Linked DNA regions of Homo sapiens. The protein of the gene in region 3 interacts with the protein of the main gene of each other region in a pairwise test. Each region holds a gene or a part of one and is shown on either strand. Other genes may lie near its edges.

The links.
Region 1: the proteins of CIPC (region 3) and RORC interact in a two-hybrid assay, tested with the Homo sapiens proteins (one study listed by BioGRID).
Region 2: the proteins of CIPC (region 3) and RABGEF1 interact in binary tests that used the Homo sapiens proteins (3 or more experiments, as listed by UniProt).

Annotation. Positions count from the first base shown.
Region 1 is NC_000001.11:151,814,803-151,821,908, forward strand, and holds part of RORC (nuclear receptor ROR-gamma), read right to left. Parts: intron 2,479-7,106; coding exon 2,393-2,478; intron 2,004-2,392; coding exon 1,862-2,003; intron 624-1,861; coding exon 111-623; intron 1-110. UniProt on the Homo sapiens protein: Nuclear receptor that binds DNA as a monomer to ROR response elements (RORE) containing a single core motif half-site 5'-AGGTCA-3' preceded by a short A-T-rich sequence.
Region 2 is NC_000007.14:66,792,628-66,799,733, reverse strand, and holds part of RABGEF1 (rab5 GDP/GTP exchange factor), read right to left. Parts: intron 4,224-7,106; coding exon 4,142-4,223; intron 3,117-4,141; exon of another isoform or gene 3,001-3,116; intron 2,959-3,000; coding exon of another isoform or gene 2,842-2,958; intron 2,361-2,841; coding exon 2,228-2,360; intron 412-2,227; coding exon 320-411; intron 1-319. UniProt on the Homo sapiens protein: Rab effector protein acting as linker between gamma-adaptin, RAB4A or RAB5A. Involved in endocytic membrane fusion and membrane trafficking of recycling endosomes. Stimulates nucleotide exchange on RAB5A. Can act as a ubiquitin ligase.
Region 3 is NC_000014.9:77,093,759-77,101,337, reverse strand, and holds the start of CIPC (CLOCK-interacting pacemaker), read right to left. Parts: upstream 3,081-7,579; 5' UTR 2,977-3,080; intron 1-2,976.

The DNA.
Region 1 (7,106 bases), on a different chromosome or scaffold from region 3:
CCCTCGTCTGGACCCCTCAATTCCCTCAGGCGCATGTTTGATTGATACGGGGTACTGGTGGAAACCCCTCCCTCATCTCTACCACCCTCTCCACCTCCCCAGCTGCTCACCTATCTCTGTCAGGGAGGCATAGGGTGCCTCCGGTGTGCTGCGGAAACTGGGGCTGCCGTAGCTGTCTGGGCCCTGTCCCAGTTCCCCAAGCCCAGGATGCCTGTGTTCCTCAAAACGAAGTCCACATCGGTCAGGGGTCAGCTGGCTGCCTGTGCTATAGAAGCTCTCTCTGCCCTCAGCCTTGCCCCGCTCAGGGCTGTATTCAAGGTGGCATGAGGCCCCATTGAGCCCTGCCTTGGCCAAGTTGTTGGAATATGAGGGCCCAGAGCCTGAGGCTTTCAGGAGGCCAGGGGGACAGGCAGAAGCCTCAGGCAGGTCAGGCGAGGAGCCCAGGGGCAGCTGCCCGTCTGGGAGCCCCAAGGTGTAGGTGAGGGTATCTGCTCCTTGGGCCCCTGCTGGAGGGGTCTTGACCACTGGTTCCTGTTGCTGCTGTTGCCGCTGCTGCAGCTGTTTCTGCACTTCTGCATGCAGGCTGTCCCTCTGCTTCTTGGACATGCGGCCGAACTTGACAGCTGAAAGAGGTCCAGGGACCAGGGGTTTATGAGGCAGGAGAACATGGCACAGGGCAGGGTCAGGAGGCATTTGGTCATTAAAGGATTAACTTGCTGCTCTCTGAATGGCTGACTCCAAGCACAGCTTCTCTAGCCTTTAGGGAACTTATGCTCAAGACCCCGTCCACCTCTCACTCTTGTTTGCTTCTGGGGTCTGTCCAGTCTGCCATTTCAATCTGCTAAGCAAAATCTTCTAAGTTCTAAATCAGATTTGAATCATGGCAGAATTCAAGCAATGAGTCTAGGCTGGGGATTCTGGCCTCCAGATCTTGGGGCTGGGGGTGGTCGAGCAGAGGGCCTCAAGCTGTATTGGGGTCACCTCGCCTCTTTGGGAGGGTCGGAGGAAGAGGAGAGCTGAGAACACAGGTCTCCCTGTGGTCAGGCCTGCAGGCTCCCTGGTGACCTAGATACTCACCACAGCCCAACCCGGGCTCCGCGGCTTGTTTCTGAACATCCTCTTCTGCTCTCTCTTTCCTGCCTTTTTACTCCCCCCGCCACCCCTCCCAGGTGTAGGGGCACAGCCCCTCGCCCCGCCTGCCCCTTTGCACCCCTGCGTGCTTCCTTTTGCTTTGTTATTTTGGGCACTGAAAAGTGCTGACGGGCTCCTTCTGGCTCCTCATCACCTCATGCCCCCCCAGCTCCACCCTAGGCTCCTTCTGTGGTGGTGGAGGTGTGCAGGGAGACTGGTGAGGAGGTGGTGGGTGAGGAGGGTGGATAAGGCACCAGGAACACCAGCCCTCCCCCACGACCACCCTCTGGTTGTTCTCAGGCCAATTCTGTTTCCATTCCTGGCTATAGTCCTGTGTCCAAGTATGGGAATGGGGGATTAGAAAAGGAGATAGAGCTAGAACTACAACAACAGGGTAGCAGGGGAAGGTGCCAGAGCTGCATGGGAGCTGGGCCAGAGGGCAGCAGAGTGAGGAGAATTCGTTCCAAGTAAGAAGAGATGAAGAGGTATGGGACCTTGGAAAGAGGATGTTTGTTCTAGCAAAGCCTAAAGTTGGGGACTCCAAAGAACTTTGATGGGGGTGACCCATCCATCCCTGGAGGGGAGGAGACAAGGGGTTGTAACGGGGAGGAATGGAGAGGAGACCAGAGGATGGGCCGTCTTGCAGGTTAAGCCTTGTCTAGCTCAGCAGGCCAGGCTGCCCCTCTGGAGACACCAGGAAAACCCCAGGGGGCTGTCGACTTGGCCTCACCATCTCGGGACATGCCCAGCGCCAGGCATTTCTGCAGGCGGCAGTGCTGGCATCGGTTTCGGCTGGTGCGGTCGATGGGGCAGTTCTGCTGACGGGTGCAGGAGTAGGCCGCGTTACAGCGCTGGCTCCGGCGGAAGAAGCCCTGGGGAAAGCAGGTGGAGGGCAAGACTGCTTATCCTGGTCAGGCCCAGCTCACTCACAAAGGCCTCCAGCCCACAAGCTCTGGCAGCTTTTCTACATCCCACGACCTGTCAGTTTTCTCTCTCCTCCATCTATTTGTGTAATTGCAATTTATCCTGTAGTCATTTCCCCAGCTTAAGACAGGGCCCTGCCAGTGTTGAGGGCCCTGCAGGAAGGCGCTACTCAGGCATTTTCCTGGCTGCCCAGGAGATCATCCCTGGAGTCAGAACAAAGGCCATTAACCCCCTTGTTTATCTCTAAGGAGACACTGTGTGTGTGTGTGTGTGTGCGCGCGCGCGCGCTTGTGTATGCACACGCACACATGCATGCATACACATGCCTATGACTCACCTTGCACCCCTCACAGGTGATAACCCCGTAGTGGATCCCAGACGACTTGTCCCCACAGATTTTGCAAGGGATCACTTCAATTTGTGCTGGAAGAGAGAAAGAGAAGTAGGTCAGCCCAGGAGGCTTTTCTGCATTCAACCACCATGTACCTGGGCTGCAGATACAGGTACCTGGTGCTTCCACTACTTCTCCAACCAGCTCCAGCTTGCTGTTTCCCTCTTGCAAAATGGAAGGGGAAGTGAAATGCCAAATGCTTCTCAGCAAAGGGTGTGAGGAAGCTGTGTTTGTTTCACAGAGGAGGGGAGTGTGGAGGGGTGGCCGGGAGTTGTATCAGTGCTATGGAGGCAGAGAAAGCAGCTGCAGAGGGGCCACCTGCTCAGCCCTTCGAGTTGAAAAGCTCCAGTTGCCTCCCTCCCGCCTTGGGACATAGGACTCCTCACGGCCTCACAACACCTGCTTCCCGCCGAAGGGGCTTCCTCTGTGCCTCCCTCCCTCGCTGGGGCTCAGCTCCCATGGGCAAAGTGTAGGGTATAGCAGGAAGATGTGGTACACAAGGGGTGGGGGATAGGCAGAGATGCCAGTCCTTCCCAGCCAGACAGTGAAGGCTCAGGGAGGTGCTATACAGAGACAGGGTGAGGGGGTGGCAGGGAGGAACCCAGGAAACGGGGGCTCAACACCCCAGCTCTGCTGGATGCCTGAGAGCCTAGGGAAAGAATTAGCCAGGGCTCTTAGGCTCTTGGCCCCAGAGCAGAGAGAGGGTGGCTTTGTGTACATCCGTGTGTCTGAGTGTGAACACTTATGTTTGTACAAAGGCATCTGTATCCATTTGTGTGAACATGAATCATCAATGTTAAAAATGGCTGAGACTAGAGACCATCTCATTCAACCTCTTCATTTACCGATGAAGGACTAAGCCAGATGAGGCAAAGCGGTTGGGCCAGGGTCATAGGCTAGTTTGCCTGAGAGCTGGATCTACATCCCAGTTCCCCTGAGCTTTCCATTATGCTGTTCTGTGTACCTGTCTTTTCGGGTACACATTTCAGTGGGCATGTTTGAAGGTGTGCTTGTGGGTGTGCATATGCAAGAAAAGTATGTGTCATTTGTGAGCCTACGACATATCTGGTTGCTCCTGCGTCCACACGTGCATATTTGTATGTTAGTGTCTGCTCATGGGGCACTAGGACCCCGGGTTCTCTCTCCCACTGAACTCACTGTAACCTGTACCTGCTTCCCTACCCCTGTGGTTTGCTGCTGGCCCTAAGCTCATCTCTGCTTTGCCCTGTTCCTGTCAATGCCCACGACTCTCTGCTGAGCTTCATGGGACCACAGGAGGCCTTCTCCCAGCTCTTCCTTGAAAGGTAGCTGGGCAAAGCTTGGGATCCCTGGTTACTGTAGGTGTTTTTAGCATTTCCCAGAGCACATGGGTCTCTTTTCCACCATCACTGACCTGCTGCCTCCCCTCTGAGTGGGGAGCCCTGGGGCGGGACAGGCCAGAAAAGTGAAGAGAAGGGCCAAAGCCCCTTTTAATCTATGACGTGTCTCCCACCAAAGGGGCAAAAGAAGTGGCAGCCTCTCTGGAGGGCGAATGCACATTGCTGTGATCTCACCTCCAGTCCCTGGCCTGGACACTGGTCACATGTAGGGCCTGTTGATGTGAAGTGGGCAGGGAGACCATGGCTTGCCCGCCATTCCCCAAAATATTATTTCCATCATTCTTAAACCATCATCCCTCAGGCCAGACTTGAGGTGAGTCAGAGGCAGTAGCTGACCCTGACGGGGACAGGGCACATGGGTATCTGAAATCCCTTCATTAGCACTCAATTCCTCACCCAACCCCCAGCCACACGTGCCTGCCCAGCAGCAAGCTTCCAGTGCTCACACTGTAAGCTGTGGTCCCCCCAGGACCAGGCGGTAAGTGAGTTTTCCAGGTTCTTTCCAGTAAATTAAGAGCAGATTTTAATACATGGAGGGGAAGAGAGAATAAGAGGGCACTGGGTGTCTGGAACAGGGGCAGAAAACGTTGGGGCCCCCATACTTCTAGTCACTTAGATTCTCCCTCTAGACCTACGTTTTCTTGTCAGCAAGATCAGGATAAAAGTATTATTGCCTGTCCATGGGGTGATTGTAGGTAACAGAGAGTAATGAAATGATATCACCAATGGAAAGCACTGTGTATTCAAGTTACTCCTGAGCAGAGGTCAGGCTGAGAAGACCAGTGGGCCTGGCAAGGCTGAGAGGAGCACTCGGGCCCTGTGGACTCTGTTCTTGCCCAACACCTCCCCCTCCAACACTGTGGCATCTCTCTTTTCAGTGGCCTAAGACCAGAGATGGGAGAAACCAACGTGGGCCACCCAAAAAAGTAAGCGGGAGGGAGATTAGGCCAAGCCGCAGTGGGAACTCGGGCTCTGGCCCAGCAGTCAACCACAGGCCTCCCTGCCTCTTCCCTTCTCCAAGAGCCACATCCGCGTGCGTGTGTGTGCTGACCACATGGTGACCCCAGACACATCTCCCTGCCCCATGCTTGACCCACTGCTTCTCCTGGCCCTAGGAACCTCACAACAGTGTCACCAAGACCTTGACCTTCTCATAGGAAGATGCGGCCAGTCAAGGACCCCCTTCGCAAATACCCATGTTTGGGCGACACCAAAGCCTTGGACTCCAGCCACCTGGTCAGCCCATCCTCCATCCTCCCAGTCCAAGACAGAAGTACCCAGTGAGACAGACACACAAGGCCAAAGACTCTGAGCTAGAATGTCAGACCCCCTAGCCTCACTGAGCTGGAGAGACCAAGAGGTTTGGGTCCAGGAAAAACAGAGACATAGATCTAGGGATGGAGAGACGGCTGCGGAAACACTGAAACACAGAAAATCCACGCTTGTATCCTGGCCTTTGCCCAACCCATGGCCCCCTCAGCACTTCAGGCCCTCTAGTCCTGCTCCCCCCTCCTTCCCCTGCCACCTGCACTCCCTTCAATGCCATCCACCCAAACCTCAGAAAGAAAGTACCAGTGCTGTGTACATGAGGGTGTGTGTTACTTGTAGAGAAGGGGTGGGGGAGAACGGGAAGGGGGCTGGTAGACTTGGGGGTTGGTGAGAGGAGCTGAAAACACCTCTGATGATAACTCACCTTCAAAAGCTACCCCTGGGAGACACGTCCCTGAAGCAGCAGGTGGTGGGAACTCAGATTGGGGAGAAGGAGCTGAGTAATCACAGGATTACTCAAACTGTTGCCCTGGAGCCAGGCCTGCCAGGAACTTACCATCTAAGGGCCTGCCAGTGCCAGGAACTAGAGCCAAGCAAAGGTCAGGAACCTCGAACCAGCCCCTGCACCACTGCTCCCATGGCAGCCCTAACTCTACCCTCGCCTGCTGTCTTGGAAAGATCTTTGCATCTCACCTGCAGCTCTCTCACTGTAGCTCTCTCCTGAGAGAGAGCTTTCTCCAAAAGAAAACTCCAATTCCACATCTTCCAAAAGGAGAGACAAATGCCCAAATGCACCCGCCAGCTCCTTAAGTCATCTAATGACTGAATGACTATGGCTTTCTGCATCTCAAACAAGATTACCTGGGGATCTGAGGTGGGACTCAAGATTCTGCACTTTGGTCAGCTCTTAGTTGGTGCCTAAGCTTACTGGTCTTCAGCTTATACTTTGAGTAGCAAGAACTTAGTCCCTATTCCTGCCTTTTTGCCAGGCTGCTCCTTCCAGGGAGTGGGGCTGGGGTTGGCGATCTTTTCCTGAGCTCATTCTTGCATCTTTTCTGCCATCCAGTGTGACCTCTAAGACTTCATTCTGAGACAATACTAGAAAAAGAAACTGAATCTCCTCTGAATTGCTTTAGAGACTGAAGTACCCCCAGGAGCATCCTAGTAGCTCCTCCTATGAGGGGAAATACGGTAGAGGCAAAGTCCTCCATCCTCCTCTAATCGAGCCTCTCACAGCTGTGAGATTCAATGATAGTGCTTTGAGTACTTCCAGAGCCTGGCCCTGTGCCAGCTTAGGAAGCCAACCCTGGGCCCTGTCCAGGTGCCCTATGCCACAGAGAGGAAGTGGTAGGAGCAGGGGAGGGGCTGCAACCCAGGGGGATCTCTCCTCTCAAACCCCAGAACCACCACCCCCCCACCATCATGGTAGAGAATGGGTTCACACAGAGAAACCCCGGGGTCCTCATCTCCTCCTGGTGCCTCGTCAATCTAGAGCTGGGCCTTTTCCTCTCCTCTTTCTCTCTCCTTTTTCTCCAGTGGATACTGATTAAGGAGAAAGGATAATGATAGACATAAGCATTGGCTGAATTCTTACTCTGTGCCAGGCTTTACATGCATTTTCATTCAATGATCACAACCACCCTGTGAAATAGGCCCTGCTAGTATCATCCTCATCTTACAGATGAGAAAACTGAGGCCTAGAGAGAATAAACAGCTTGACTAAGGTCACACAGCCAGAAGTGGCAGATCTGGCATTTGAACCTAGATCTCTGTAATTCTGCAGCCAGTGCCCTCAAGCCTTAAGCTATATACTTTATGAGGATAAGACGCCCAAATGCACACCGGAGACCTGGGTAGAGGACATGGTTATTTGGCTGTAGGGGTAAAAGTGTGAGGTGATTGTGGTGGTCTAGGAACAGAATTCACAGAGGAAACCCACAGAACTAAAGCCAGGACTCCTGTTTGTATAAAGATCCCAAGAGATATTATTCCCTCTGTCCCAACTCTTCCTC
Region 2 (7,106 bases), on a different chromosome or scaffold from region 3:
ATGGAACAGTCAGCTGAATAAAAACTAAATAAAAAAAGAAGTACAAAAAAAAGAAAAAAAATTTATTCTATCTGCATTTGACCTTAGTTTAGTTTAATGCCCAAGAAACGAGACCATAATCCCTGAAAATAAAGGGGTAAAAGAGAACCTGCTCTTCTGAATGCCATCAAATTCATAAAACAATCTTACAAATCACTTTTACTACATTCCAATGTACCTTCGACAATCTGCATTTTACAAATGTATAGATGAATATTACAGTAAAATGTTAACTTTAAGGGGAAAACATCCCAATAAAAAGGCTCTTGGTTTCACTGACCTGTGATCGCCTTCACCACCATATCAGACACTTCTGGGATGTCTTCATTAACAGGGACACACAGCATCTGAGGCGTAACCCAGCGCAGGGCTCTAAAGAGAGAGAGACAGTAAACAAGAGCTCCAAGGATAAACTGTGGCCATTTGTCTTGTCACCTCCTTCAGTTTAGGGAAAGCCTGAGGCATCACTGACCACTCAATCCCAGGCCCACACACATCACCCCTGCAAGTACTACGAGCTCTAATGACGTGATGAAGCAGCTAGGATCCTAAAATGAGACTTCTGCATTTATCACAAGAATGGAAGGCCATCTTGCTGACTGAAATGACATTACGCAGTGCTACCAAGACTGAAATGCACTCAGTATCTGAAAGTGACCATTTGAGAATTGGCTGCTGCCTGTCCTCGCTGCCTACTGCGTTAATGTCCTTTTACACTCAGTCCTCAACTTCTTTCTTTTTTGAGATGGAGTCTCACTCTTGCCCAGGCTGGAGTGCCAATCTTGGCTCACTGCAGCCTCTGCATCCTGGGTTCAAGCAATTCTCCTGCCTCAGGCTCCCAAGCAGCCGGGACTACAGGCGCCCACCTCCATGCCCAGCTAATTTCTGTACTTTTACGAGACAGGGTTTCACCCTGCTGGCCAGGCTGGTCTCAAACTCCTGACCTCAGGTGATCTGCCTGCCTTGGCCTCCCAAAGTGCTGGGATTACAGGTGCGAGCCACCACACCTGGCCTCAACCCTCAACTTCTGAGGCACACTGGAGCTTGTATAGGAGGCCACGGGCAGGACCACCATGCCTGAATCACTGTGTGTTTCCTGGTCCCACCCTAACTGCACTCCAACTACCCTGCAGCAGGCCTGCCCTCTTGCTTGGTTACTGCTTCTGTTCTGCATCTTGGTCCAGGGCCCCTCTAGTTACTTCTGGCTCCTGACCTTGGGCTCCACATCTTCAGCCTGCCCAGTATCAACTCCTCACTTCAGCTATGAAACTTCCAATACAGATCTAGCAAGTACCAGCCCCTTGTCTGGAACCTGGGACTCCGAGTCCCTTCTCCCCTTAAAACACCTCATCAGCTCAGCCTTGGCCCTGTTCCCACACTTGGGTGGTCTCTTCCTCAGTGTCCACCGCAACTGGAGTACACAGTGCTGGGGCTCACCCCAGTGAGCCTGGAAGACTGGGTGCTGTGGGAAATGTCATCAATCCAATGCCAGTGAAAGATGTGACTAGGGAATGCTGAAAAATGCACACCCCTGGGAGGAATGAGGAAAGAGGACATCTACTGACTTGTTATTTTTTTGAGAAGGAGTCTTGCTCTGTTGCCCAGGCTGGAGTGTGGTAGCATGATCTCAGCTCACTGCAACCTCTGCCACCTGGATTCAAGCCATTCTCGTGCCTTAGCCTCCCAAGTAGCTGGGATCACAGGCGTGCGCCACCATGCCTGGCTAATTTTTGTATTTTTAGTAGAGACGGGGTTTTACCACGTTGCCTGGGCTACTCTTGAACTCCTGGCCTCAAGTGATCCTCCCAAAGTGCTGGGATTACAGGTATGAGCCACCGGGCCCAGCCGACATCCCCTGCCTTGATACCGATATTCACAGCTTCCCACTTGAGGAGATGGTAATGGACCAAGAACACAGTCCCCCTATTCCTTGGAGATTTCAGGGATTGAAAACAATCTCAAACACCAAACACAACTCTTACCAAAAGCTGCCTTGAGGGAGATGGATAGGTGAGGTCACCACATTCCTCGTCTTTCTTACACAACAGAGCTGCTTCCACTCTAAGGAAGCAGGAACATGAGCTATTGCTTTCCCTTAAGGTTTGAAACACAGGTGCATTATTTTCCCCCCAGTGTGTTCTTCCATTAGAAGGTAGTAACTACAAAGCAAAACAAAATAAGCAACTACCTGATTCTCTTTTGAATGGCAAGATCTTTCTTCTCATCATCAGTAGTTTCTGGACAGAATACATATTTATAGAGACGAGTCATGATGTACTTTTCAATCTGATCCATTATCTTCTCGACTCTTTCTGGAGGCACTGAAATAACCAGACAGAGAAAAGATCAAGATATATATATTTTTTCTCTCTCTTTTTTTTTTTTTTTGCAAACAAAGAGTCTGGCTCTGTCGCCCAGGTTGGAGTGCAGCAGCATGACCTTGGCTCACTGAAACCTCCACCTCCTGGGCTCGAGCCATTCTCCTACCTCAGCCTCCCAAGTAGCTGGGATCACAGGCACACGCCACCATGCCTGAATAATTTTTGTAGGTTTTTTCTGTGGAGATGGGGTTTTACCATGTTGCCCAGGCTGGTCTCGAACTCCTGGGCTCAAGCAATCTACCTGCCTCAGCCTCCCAAAGTACTAGGTTTATAGGTGTGAGCCAGAATGCCCGGCCAAGAGTATATTTTCATAGCACTGTCTACACAGCAAAAAACTAATTTACTAGAAATAAATTAAACACACTCAGAACAAAAGTATAAGAATGTTATATTTAAAAATACGCTTAAAAAAAAAACTTACCAGCTGGGTGCGGTGGCTCTACTCCTGTATTCCCAGCACTTTGGGAGGCTGAGGCAGGTGGATCGCCTGAGGTCAGGAGTTCAAGACCAGCCTGGCCAACATGGTGAAATCTCCTCTCTAATAAAAATACAAAAATTAGCTGGGTGTGGTGGCACGCACCTGTAATCCCAGCCACTCGGGGGCTGAGACAGGAGAATCACTTGAACCTGGGAGGCAGAGTTGCAGTGAGCCGAGGTCACACCACTGTACTCCAGCTTGGACGACAGAGTGATATTCTGTCTCGACAAAAACAAACAAACAAACAAACAAAAAAATCTTCTTCCAACTGTTGGGCTGCCTTCCACAGCAACCTCAGTTCTAACTGAAGTTGTCTGACAGGACCTAACAGTGTACACCCTGCCAAATGGGGAGACTTCAGCAAGGTCACTCCCTGTCCTACATTACAAAGGCATTTGCAACTCCCAAGACTGATGAATGCTGATGAAACTTATCCTTTCATTTTTCTGAGGTTTACCATAACATCGTAGAGCTCTCTGAGGTATACAAATGGAGATTTCTCTGACACACACATGTGCTAAGTATATCCTAAAGTCTAGTATCAGTGAAGGTTGAATCCATAAAGAATCCCTAAAAACTTGAAGCTCTTTTTTTTTTAAACTATTAATACAATAACTCACCAAAATGGTGATTCCAAGATGGAAAATTCATTTAGCAAAGCCTTCCAATAAGTTTTTCTCTTTCTCTCTCTCTTTTTTGAAGACAGAGTCTCGATCTGTTGCCCAGGCTGGAGTGCAGTGGCACAGTCTCAGCTCACTGCAACCTCCGCCTTCCGGGTTCAAGCAATTCTTGTGCCTCGGCCTCCCGAGTAGCTGGGATAAGAGGTGCACCACAACACCCGGCTACTTTTTGTATTTTTAATAGAGGCGGGGTTTCACCATGTTGGCCAGGCTGGTCTCGAACTCCTGGCCTAACGTGATCCGCCTGCTTTAGCCTCCCAAAGTGCTGGGATTACAGGCATGAGCTACTGAGCCAGGCCCTAAGATGTTTTCGTCAGCTCCAGCCCTGCCCCAATGGAGTTATTAAATGTTACTCAATAAATTATCCAATTGCTCCTGGAAAGATACGCATGGTACAGTTCAAAGGCACTGCTAAGTATAAGACCAGTTCCCAGAATGTCCATGAGGTTACAGGATGAAGTCTACAAACCAGCCAGACCATCAGAGAAAGAAAGAAATTGCTAAGAGACTGAGCAGTCATCCCTGTGCAATACCCGCAATCTCTCAATGGCTAACAGTGTTACCTTTCCCACGAGTTTGCATCCTTTCGGCCACATTGTGGTAGAAATCCTGAGCACACTCTGACTGTTCTTCAATGCTTAGATCCTGAAACAGAGAGACAAAGAGGCTGCTTGTAGCTGAACAAAGTGCAGAAGCACAGCTCTACATTCTAAGAACTTTCCAAAAGCCATTCCTTGTACTGGTAGTAAGCCTAAAAGTACTCACAGGTTATATTAATCCTGCAGGAGAGTAAAACCTATCCATTAATATTATTTCCAATATCCATTGTTGCCGGACTTTTCCTTAGTTCAGCTAAAGACGGGATCCTTGTCCGTCTCACAGCCACAAAAATTTAGGCTCGCAGGCGGTTTGAATGGTGGGTAAGACAGGGTTTTATTAGGTGAAAAGGAAGAAAAGGGGGAATCCGAGACACTCACAAGGCCAGAGTCCCTGCTAGAGTGCTTCCTGCCAGCAGCTAGAATCCTGGGCTCCACACAGAAAGAAGAGGGGCCAGGCTCCTCCCTGCTACAAATGGTGCAAACTTCCCAAAACTCCACCCCGGTGGGCAGGCTGGCTGGAGTTTTTCCGGGGACCCCTTCCCACCTAGCGGTCTCACCATGACCATCTCATTCTTTTTGCTAAATCTACGTATTCTTAAATAGATTTAATGCATGTTTTGATAATTTACATATTTTATGTACATTTCTATTTATCTAATCCACTGAATCATTTCTGGTGGCTTTATAACACTGCATTATATTAACTGACTTCTTCGACTCTCCTCTACCACTGTGCATTTGAGTTGCTCCCCCTCTTTCACTGTTGTGCACTGTAGGTATAAATAATTTTGTAAGGACTATCTTCTTTTCGGTTCTCTGTCATACATTTCCAAAAGTGGCATTAACCGCTTAATATGAATAAACAATGTTATAGCACTAAGTATCTATTGCTAGCCACACTCCTCAGAAACTCAGTGCACACTGTCATTAACCACGTGTATGCACTTACTTCCCTATGGCCCTTACAACATTGGGCTTGATAATTTTTATTTGGTTTTACTGATTTTATAGGTGTAATATATGTATTTGTTTCTCACTTTCTGCCAAAGAATATTTAAAGGCTATTTAAAAGATAAATGCAGTTCAGCACAAGAGACTAGAAAATAAAAAGAATAACAAATAACTGTAATCCCAGTGCTCTGGGAGGTTGAGGCTAGAGGATCGATTGAGCCTAGGAGTTTGAGGCCAGCCTGGGCAACATAGTGAGACCCCATCTCAAGAAAGAAAAGAAAAGAGAAGAGGAAAGAAAGAAAGGGGAGAGAAAGGAGAGAAAGGAAAGAAAGAGAAAGAAAGAAATTAAAAAATTTTTTTAACAATAATAAGTAAAAAAAAAAAAAAAAAAAAAAAAATTAAACATGGAGAGAGACCTAAAGCAGAGCCACAGATGACAAGACAGAAATGTTTTCCTGGAAGATGTCTAAATTAGTCAAGAGTCAGCCCATACATCTGTCTCTAACTAAATTTTTTAGCAACCATCACTAGGATGAAAACAGTTATGTAATTCAGGGTTCAAAAGATGAAAGCAAACAAATTATTCGGGTGAAATTCTGACACCAAAATCAAAAATTTCTCCCAACGGTTCTCATAAGGATGTCACAGTAGAAGAACATGAATAAGGCCGAGAACAAACCCCCAGGACGGGCTGTCACAGACTTCATCTACACAGGCCACTGACCTCACACGCCAAGGGCCGATACATCCTGTGGAAGCCCACAGCAGTCTGACCATCTGGCTTAACTCTAAAAGGATGGCAGGACACTTGGGGTCAGGAGCAGTCACCTCATTCCCTCAGTAAAAATGGCCAAGCACTCATGGCACTTTGTGATCACCTTGACTGCAGCCCTTGTTACTGTCAACTAGTTACCCATATACATGCACACACTGCAGTGCTCAAATCTATCCTTCTACTTCAAGTATTTTATGCAAAAGCTTATCCATTCAATCTTTTTAGGTAGTTTACACATGGTTTTACACCTTTCATTTGCACCAAATTTTAGCACTTAACTTAGAAGAAACTATATTCATTCTTGTGATTATTACTACAGATTTGAGCATTCCTAACCCAAAAATAAAAAATCTGAAATGCTCAAAAATCCCAAATTTGTCAGTGTCGACATGACACCACAAGTGGGAAATTCCACACCTGGCCTCATGTGATGATGGGCTAGAGTCAAAAAGCAGCCAAAACTGTTACATGCACAAAACTGCTTAAAATGTGGTATAAAATTACCTTCAGGCTATGTATGTAAGGCATATATTCAACAAATGAATTCTGTGTTTGGACTTGGGTCCCAGTCCCAAGTTATCTTATATATGTGTAAATATTCCAAAATCTGGGAAAACCCCAAAATCTGAAACACTTCTGGTCCCAAGGCTCTCGGATAAGGGATACTCAACCTGTAGTGCTCGCTTCCAACTAGAAACTCTCTGAGCTCCTTTTAGAGACCCGAGAGGCCTGTCTTACTGGTGTCAAGGGATCATATTCTCCTCCCCCAGCCCAGCACAACCCCTGTAATTTTACAATACAATGCCGAAAACTCCTTTTCTATTTCTACTGCAGTTTATGCTCCAGTACAGTATTGCTTTCATAATGTAAAAGAACTCACCCCTGCCACTGTCTCTCATCCTGCTTTCCATTCTTGTAGGACTTAACACTATGTTACAGATCTGCTTATTGTCCATTTCCCCAACTAAAATGTTAGCTCCACAAGGGCACTGTTCACCACCATATCCTCATGCCTAGAACAAGGCCAGGCACAGGGTTAGTGCTCAGTATGGGTTGAATGAATAAATGTGGCCATTTATTACCATTCCTCCCTTTATAAGATGCTGAAGACAATTCTCCATAGATCTCTTTCTACCTATCTGTGAGCAAAGGCAATGACTGCCTTTGTTTTGCAACATCTTTTCAAGGATTTCTTTATAGAAA
Region 3 (7,579 bases):
TCCCCAAACTTTACTCTTTCGGAGGAGTAGCAGCACTGCCCTCCTGGGAGTGGCTGAGGGACCCACTCACACATAGCACCACATAAAGCCTCACTTACTACTGGTGCTCTCAACCCCAAAATTTGCAAGGCAAAGTCTGAAAACCTCGGGAAGTTGCTTGATTTTTTTCCTCTTAGATATTAGTTTACAATAAAGTTACATGCTCACACTGACTAGGAGTTGAAAATGGATTACTAAGCTCTTACCCACTGTGTTCTTTCTGCTTCCTGCTTCCTGGCATAGACTGGAAATCACTCACGCTGCTTTACAAACACATGTACCTTATTCTGCATTAAAAGGGCTAATTTAGGCTCCAAAACTGTCAGAATTTACCCTAATTGGGCCTCTTATGCATGTATATGTAACACATTGTCCAAAAGTTTCCCAGAGAGGATAGTACACACTAAAACTCATAATGGAAAGTGAATCAGGCCGGGTGTGGTGGCTCACACCTATAATCCCAGCACTTTGGGAGGCAGAGGTGGATGGATCACCTGAGGTCAGGAGTTCGAGACCAGCCTGGCCAACATGGTGAAACCCTGTCTCTACTAAAAATACAAAAATTAGCTGGGTGTGGTGGCACACATCTGTAATCCTAGCTACTTGGGAGGGTGAGGCAGGAGAATCCCTTGAACCTGGGATGTGGAGTTGCAGTGAGCCGAGATGTTGCCACTGCCCTCCAGCCTGGGTGAAGAGTGAGACTCCGTCAAAAGAAAAAAAAAAAAGAAGAGAAAAGAAAAGAAAAGAGAGAATCAGAGCCAGGCAAGGTGGCTCACGTCTATAATCCCAGCAGCACTTTGAGGCACAGGCGGGCAGATCACCTGAGGTCAGGAGTTGGAGACCAGCCTGGCCAATATGGTGAAACCCTGTCTCTACTAAAAACACAAAAATTAGCTGGGCTTGGGGATGTGTGCCTGTAATCCCAGCTTCTCAAGAGGCTGAGGCACGAGAATAGCTTGAACCTGGGAGGCAGAGATTGTAGTAAGCCGAAATTGTGCCTCTGCACTCCAGCCTGGGTGACAGAGTGAGACTCCGTCTCAAAAAAAAAAAAAAAAAAAGAAAGAAAGAAAGTGAATCAATAAATATATAAGTTTATATAAGGGGACAAAATTCAAAATCCTAGCAAGTGCTCCAAAGCATTTAGCTCTTACTACTCTTTTTGCACTTCTGACATTAGTCTAATTATTTGTCTCCTCAACCTCGAGTTGTTTTTTTCATCTTTGCAACCTCAGCCCCCAACAATTAACATGAGGCATTCAATAGAGTAATAAATTCCAACAAATCTCTGACCTGCTGAGTCTCTGACAGCTCTAGTAGCTTAGCAGTCACAGAAATACCTGAACAGCTTGAAGGTCAAGATTCTGCATTTCCAAACACCACGGTCACCTTAAGATCTAACCTCCACGTCTGGTCCCCTGCAGGAAACAGATATTTGATCTACCCCTTATTCTAAGTTGAAACGTCAGGGACAAATCCACCATCCAAATTAAGGGTTGATCTAATCCACAAACAATCTTTGTGAAGATTTGTCCTTATGATTAAAAAGGAGATCCAGGGTTACAAGAAAAGGATCTGAAATGCTGCTTTCAGATCTCTCCTTTTATAGACACTTGGCAACATTCCTGGAAGCTCAAGTTCCCTTTAAAATGTGTCACGTGTATAACATGTGTGCCTGGACAGAAGTGTGAGGTAAAAGCCCAACCAGAGGCTTAAATACAATAAAGTGATAAGGTCACAGAAAGAAAACCTTGAGTAATCCCCGTTAGAATTATAAATACATTACTAGCTTTTCTCCGAAGTCATTTTCTTTTGGCCTGCATATTCAGGGATACCATTCTGGGAGAATGTCTGGGTATCTTAACAGTGGAAAAACCCTGTCTACCTAAATGTCTAATATTCATCTTCCCTTCCACATTCATTCCATTTCTCCAACTTGGCTGAAAATTCGTGTCAAAGATCCTGAACCCCAATTCCATACAATTTCCTATGTTTTAGACCAGTTTGGCTCTATTTTCACCTTTCAAAGGGGAGATGAGCTTAGAGAACTTTCTCCGATCCCCTGCTGCAATTAGTTCACAGTAACAGTGCCCACCTACCCATTCGCACCAGCCCACGTTGCATCTGTGCCAGGCAGCATGTGCACCCTCCAGGCATCCACCAGCCTGCCAGCTCAGCAGGGCAAAACTGGGCAGACCCTAGTACTGTGCTGTGACTGGCATACCACCAGCCTTCCAGGGCAAACGCCCAGGCAATGCATACTGCCAGGACTTGAGCAATAACAGGGAGCCTAGCTCCAGCCTGTGACCTGGGCCGGGATCAGAGCTCCCCCGAACCCACCCACTAACCACTTAACTCCTTACTTGGCACTGCCCACCTTCTCCCCAGAAACACTACCCCCGACACCAAGCCTGGCAAGCTGGCCACTCAGGGGAAACAACCAGCAACGAGGGTGACGGCAGGTCTCTGGAAAAGGCAGCACACCTGTGCCCTGGAGCCAGAACAGGGTACCACCCCCGACCTCAAACCGGAAGCCCAGGACCCTCGCCCAGTTACTAGTTCTGGCGCCCACTCACCTGCCCATTGCTTGGCCCTCAGCTCCCAGCCGGGCTGGACTCCAAGCTCTCTCCCCGCCCAGCCGGCTGGCGGTTGCGCCCAGGGCTAGACCAGGGCCCACCTGCCCCTCACACAAGCCTCCTCCCCACACGCAGCCCCCTCCTCACCCGCGATTCCCTCTCCCACGCCCCTCACAGCAAACCAAAGCCCTGCTCCCACCATTTGGCTCTCCGTCCTCCGAAAGTCCCGGTTTGCCCCTCTTGCCTACTCGCTCCTCTTCCTCTCTCCCCTACTTCCACCTCCTTTCCCCACGCTCCTCGCCCAATCCCTCTCCCGCCGTCATCCCTGCTCCCCTCCTCCCGGACCGAGCCCTCCCTTTCTCACCTAGGGCCGGGGTCGCAGCTCCACGACCGGCCTGTGGGTCAGGTGGCGCATGCGCGAGCACGGCCCCGCGGCACCATGACAACCTCGTCGTCGCTGGGTGTCTCGCTATCCCCACAGCCTCCCGCCCATTTCTCCTCCCCACGCCTCCGCGACGGCTTTCGCCAGCCACGTGACCCGACTCGGATGACCCGGCACCATGGAGACCGCACGCTGTTCTCCTAGAAGGGCCCTTGGAAATGCGCCCTTTCCCCGCCCCCGCCGGAAGACCAGGCCGGCGCGGGGCGGGGCCAGCGCTCAGAGGCCTACGCTCTGTCCGCGGCCGGCGGGCGTCTCTATGGTTGGTTCCTCAGGCCTCGCCGCCATTTTGTACGGGGGCCTTGAGCAATGAGCGGCTTGGGCAAGGTTTCCAGGCGGGGTTCAGAGGAGCCGGGGGTGGGGCCGGCTTGGAGTCGATACAGAGAGAGGAGCGACTCTCGCACTGTCTTGGTGCGTGCCGCCGTGCCGCCGTGCCGCCGTTGGGGGTGGGGGCCGGGGCGAGTCGTGTCCGGCCTGTGCGCGTGCCGGGAGCGACAGTGCCCGGCGTGGGAGAGCGGGCGTGCGGGCGGCCTCAGCCTGGAGTCGCCGTGACAGGGGTGCCAGACCTCCCCGCGTGCTCCTCGCATTTTCTCTACGCCTGTCGCCCTGTTTGTTTTTTGTTCCCGTCCACCCTCGAGACCGTGCTTCACGAGGTCGAGGCGCGATGAGTTATTTTAAGTAGATGATTTCATGACCTTTGATGTTTGACTGACTTTGTCATGTGCTATGGGTTTTATATGGATGCTGTTTCTTGGTGAAGGTTCACGGTGAACACACGTGTGTAACAGCTAAAGAAAAAAAGGGCTTGGGATCAGTTGACGTTCTGATGCCTTGAATCAGTGAAGGTTACTTAGAAAAAGAATTATTTCGCTAGTGAAAAAGAGGACATGGGCGAGTTTAAAGAGTTGACGGGTCGAGGCAGATTCAAGAGCTGAGCTGTCCAGTAAGATGGTCACTAACGACTGGATAAGTTTCTCAGTTGTACTAGCCACATTTCAGGAGCTCAGTGACCTCTTTATTGGACAGTGCAGATTATATATAGCCCATTCCCAGCATCGCAGAAAGTTATATTGGACAGTGCTGATTTAGATAGTGGGGAATTGTTTTATACTGGTCATCCAGGCCTTTGTAAGTGCTGCTAGGTCGTGGTTAATCACGTTAGTCCTCTAGACACAGGTAATTCTAATGTATTACTGGGTATGGGTGTACTTGTTAGTAGTCAGCTTTACCAACAAGTAATATGCCTACACCATGTAAGGCTTTTGTTTTGGGGACAGAGTGAAAGCAATAGTTAACAATTACCAAGTAATTAGGAGCCGGGCCGCTTTATATGCATCCTTTTATGATTCCTTACAAGTTTATGACGCAGGTGGTATTTTTTTCCAGTTGTGTGGCGTTTTTGCCCATTAGGACTCAACTAAAAACCCATGGCTTTGGCCAGGCACAGTGGCTGACGCCTGTAATCCCAGCACTTTGGGAGGCCGAGGCGGGCGGATCACCTGAGGTCAGGAGTTCAAGATCAGCCTGGGCAACACGGTGAAACCCCGTCTCTACTAAAAATACAAAATTAGCTGGGCGTGGTGGCACATGCCTGTAATCCTCGGGAGGCTGAGGCAGGATAATCGCTTGAACCTGGGAGGCGGAGGATGCGGTGAGCCGAGATCGTGCCATTGCACTCCAGCCTGGGCAACAAATCTCCGTCTCACCAAAACAAACAAACGAAAACCGTGGCTTTTATCCATGAAGCTATTAATATATTGCCTTCTTTTGAAGTGGAATAAAACAATCTGCCTTCAGATAACTTAAAATCTGATATGGGAAATAAGACGCGCTGTAATAAATAATATGAAAGAGAATGGGATAAGTACCAGAAGATTGTGAACAAAACCTAATTAATAAAATAAAGGGAGAAAAAAAAACTTTGTTTTTTTTTGGTTGTTGGAGTAGGAAGAGATCAGTAGGTAAATCTTTAAGGATAGCTAAAAGTTGGATTTGCAGTAATGGAAGTGGGTGAGAGTACGACGCACACAAAGCAAAAAAAGAATCAATGAAATAAGCAAAAGCATGAGGTGTGGTCCTATCTTAGTTTTCCGAAGGGGCAAATAAATAAACTATGAGAGGAATGAATTAATGGCATTTGCAGCAACCTGGATGAGATTGGAGACTTATATTCTAAGTGAAGTAACTAAGGAATAGAAACCCAAACATCGTATGTTCTCACTCATAAGTGGGAGTTAAGCTATGAGGATGTAAAGGCATAAGGATGATACAGTGGACTTTGGGGACTCAAGGGGAAAGGGTGGGAAGGGGGTGAGGGATAAAAGACTACAAATTGGGTGCAGTGTATACTGCTCAGGTGATGGGTTCACCAAAATCTCACAAATCACCGCTTAAGAACTTACTCATATAACCAAAATGCCACCTGTTCCCCAAAAACCTATGGAAATAAAAAATTTAAAAAACAGCAGCATGGATACTAGGCTTAATACCTGGGTAACGAAATCATCTGTACAACAAACCGCCATGACACAAGTTTACCTATGTAACGAATCTGCACACGTATCCCTGAACTTAAATAAAAAACAAAACAAAAATAAAATTCAAAAAAAAAAAGAATAAAAGTCTGCCTTCAAATAACTTACAATCTGATATGGGAAATAAGACATGATGTAATAAGCAATATGAAAGAGAATGGGATAACTACCAAAAGATTCTGAACAAAACAATAACATTAAGGGAGAAAAAAAAAACTTTCTTTTTCGGTTGTTGGAGTAGAAAGAGACCAGCAGGTAAAGCTTTAAAGACAGCTTGAAAGTTGGGTTTGCAATAATGGAAGCAGGTGAGGGGATAATGCATACCAAGCAAAAAAGAATCAGTGAAATATGCGAAAGCATGAGGCCCTCTTAGTCCTCCGAAGGGGCAAATAAACCAAACTTCCTTGACTTTACCTACATCTTGAGCAGACAGCCATGCTGTACCAATAACTTAAGCTTCAGACAAGTATTGTAATGGAACCAAATGAATCAAGACTAATGATAGGCATAATTTTTATGATTATTTTATGCTATGATTCTATATAATTAGATATACAGAATAAGCAATTCATGAAGATTGATAGTGAATATTTTTATGTAGCTAAACCACCGTAAACGTTTTTCTTCCTTTCCTATTAATTTACCAAGATTTGTAAATCAGCATCTATTGATAGTTTACTGGTGCCACGAATTCTTTAACCTTCACTCACTTTACTCTCTTTACTCTTGGTTGGAGTAAGGACCCTATGATGGATGGGGTAAGGACCCTGTGATGGATAGTGGGTTCTGAAGCACCTATTCTTCTTGCTGTAGGGTCCTTTCCAATTCAAGTTCTCCCCAGTACCATTGTGGTCTAGGTTCGGTTTCCTACCACCACAACCAGCAGGGGGAGACATGCGCCCTTAAATCCTACATTTAGGGACTTGCGAATGTTTCTTTTTTTTTCCCATCTACTTCTTGAAATTGTAACCTGCCTATCCGTGTGAGGATTTGAGTTTTTAACCCTGCCTAGGATACCATGAAGAGTCAGCCATGGGCCGAGTTTTATTTGAAGATATTTTAAGTGTATTATGTTATACAATTTAAAATATTTATAAACGATTGTTTAATAATTGTTGAATTTAAAATTAAAGTCATTTAAAAATATTTAAAAGTGGGCCAGGCGCAGTGGCTCACACCTGTAATCCCAGCACTTTGGGAGGCCAAGGCGGGCAGATCACTAGGTCAGGAGTTCAAGACCAGCCTGGCCAACGTGGTGAAACCCCGTCTCTACTGAAAATACAAAAATTAGCTGGGCATGGTGGCATGCGCCTTTAATCCCAGCCACTCAGGGGGCTGAGGCAGGAGAATTGCTTGAATCCAGGAGGCGGAGGCTGCAGTGAGCTGAAATTGTGCCACTGCACTCCAGCCTGGGTGACAGAGCGAGACTCCGTCTCAAAAAAAAAAAAAAAAAAAATTTAGAAGTAATTAAAATAGTGTAATAGGAGACGGTGAAAGTCAGTGATCTAGTTTCAAATTCCAGCTCCTATCAATATCATTTTACAAAAGAAGGGTCATTTTGATATCTTTTCCGTATACACAGAAGGGAAGATAGGACATAACCTCACAATTTAAAAATAGAATAATTTCGGGTGTATGAAAAACTTAAAGCTTTTAGTCTTATTTTTCCAGTTTGGCTGAAGACTGGTGAAAACATCACCACAAGGACTGGCAACAGTTCTTGGACTGGTGTTTGGGAACCATTGATTTCATTTTCCTGAACCTCAGTTTGGCCGTCTGTAAAATAGTTATCCTGTAGTTTGAATCTAGCATCTAGCATTATTGGTGCTGATCACTTCATAAGTCTTTAAATAGGATTTGATGGAGTGGTAAGTGTGTCTCATGGGTCAGTGAGAGAAGAGAGGGGCTCCAGCCTGTGTGGGCAGGGGGATCTACAGGTGCCAGATGGCAGAGGCAGAGGCCAGTGATAGTGGGATGTATGACCTTTTTTCCCT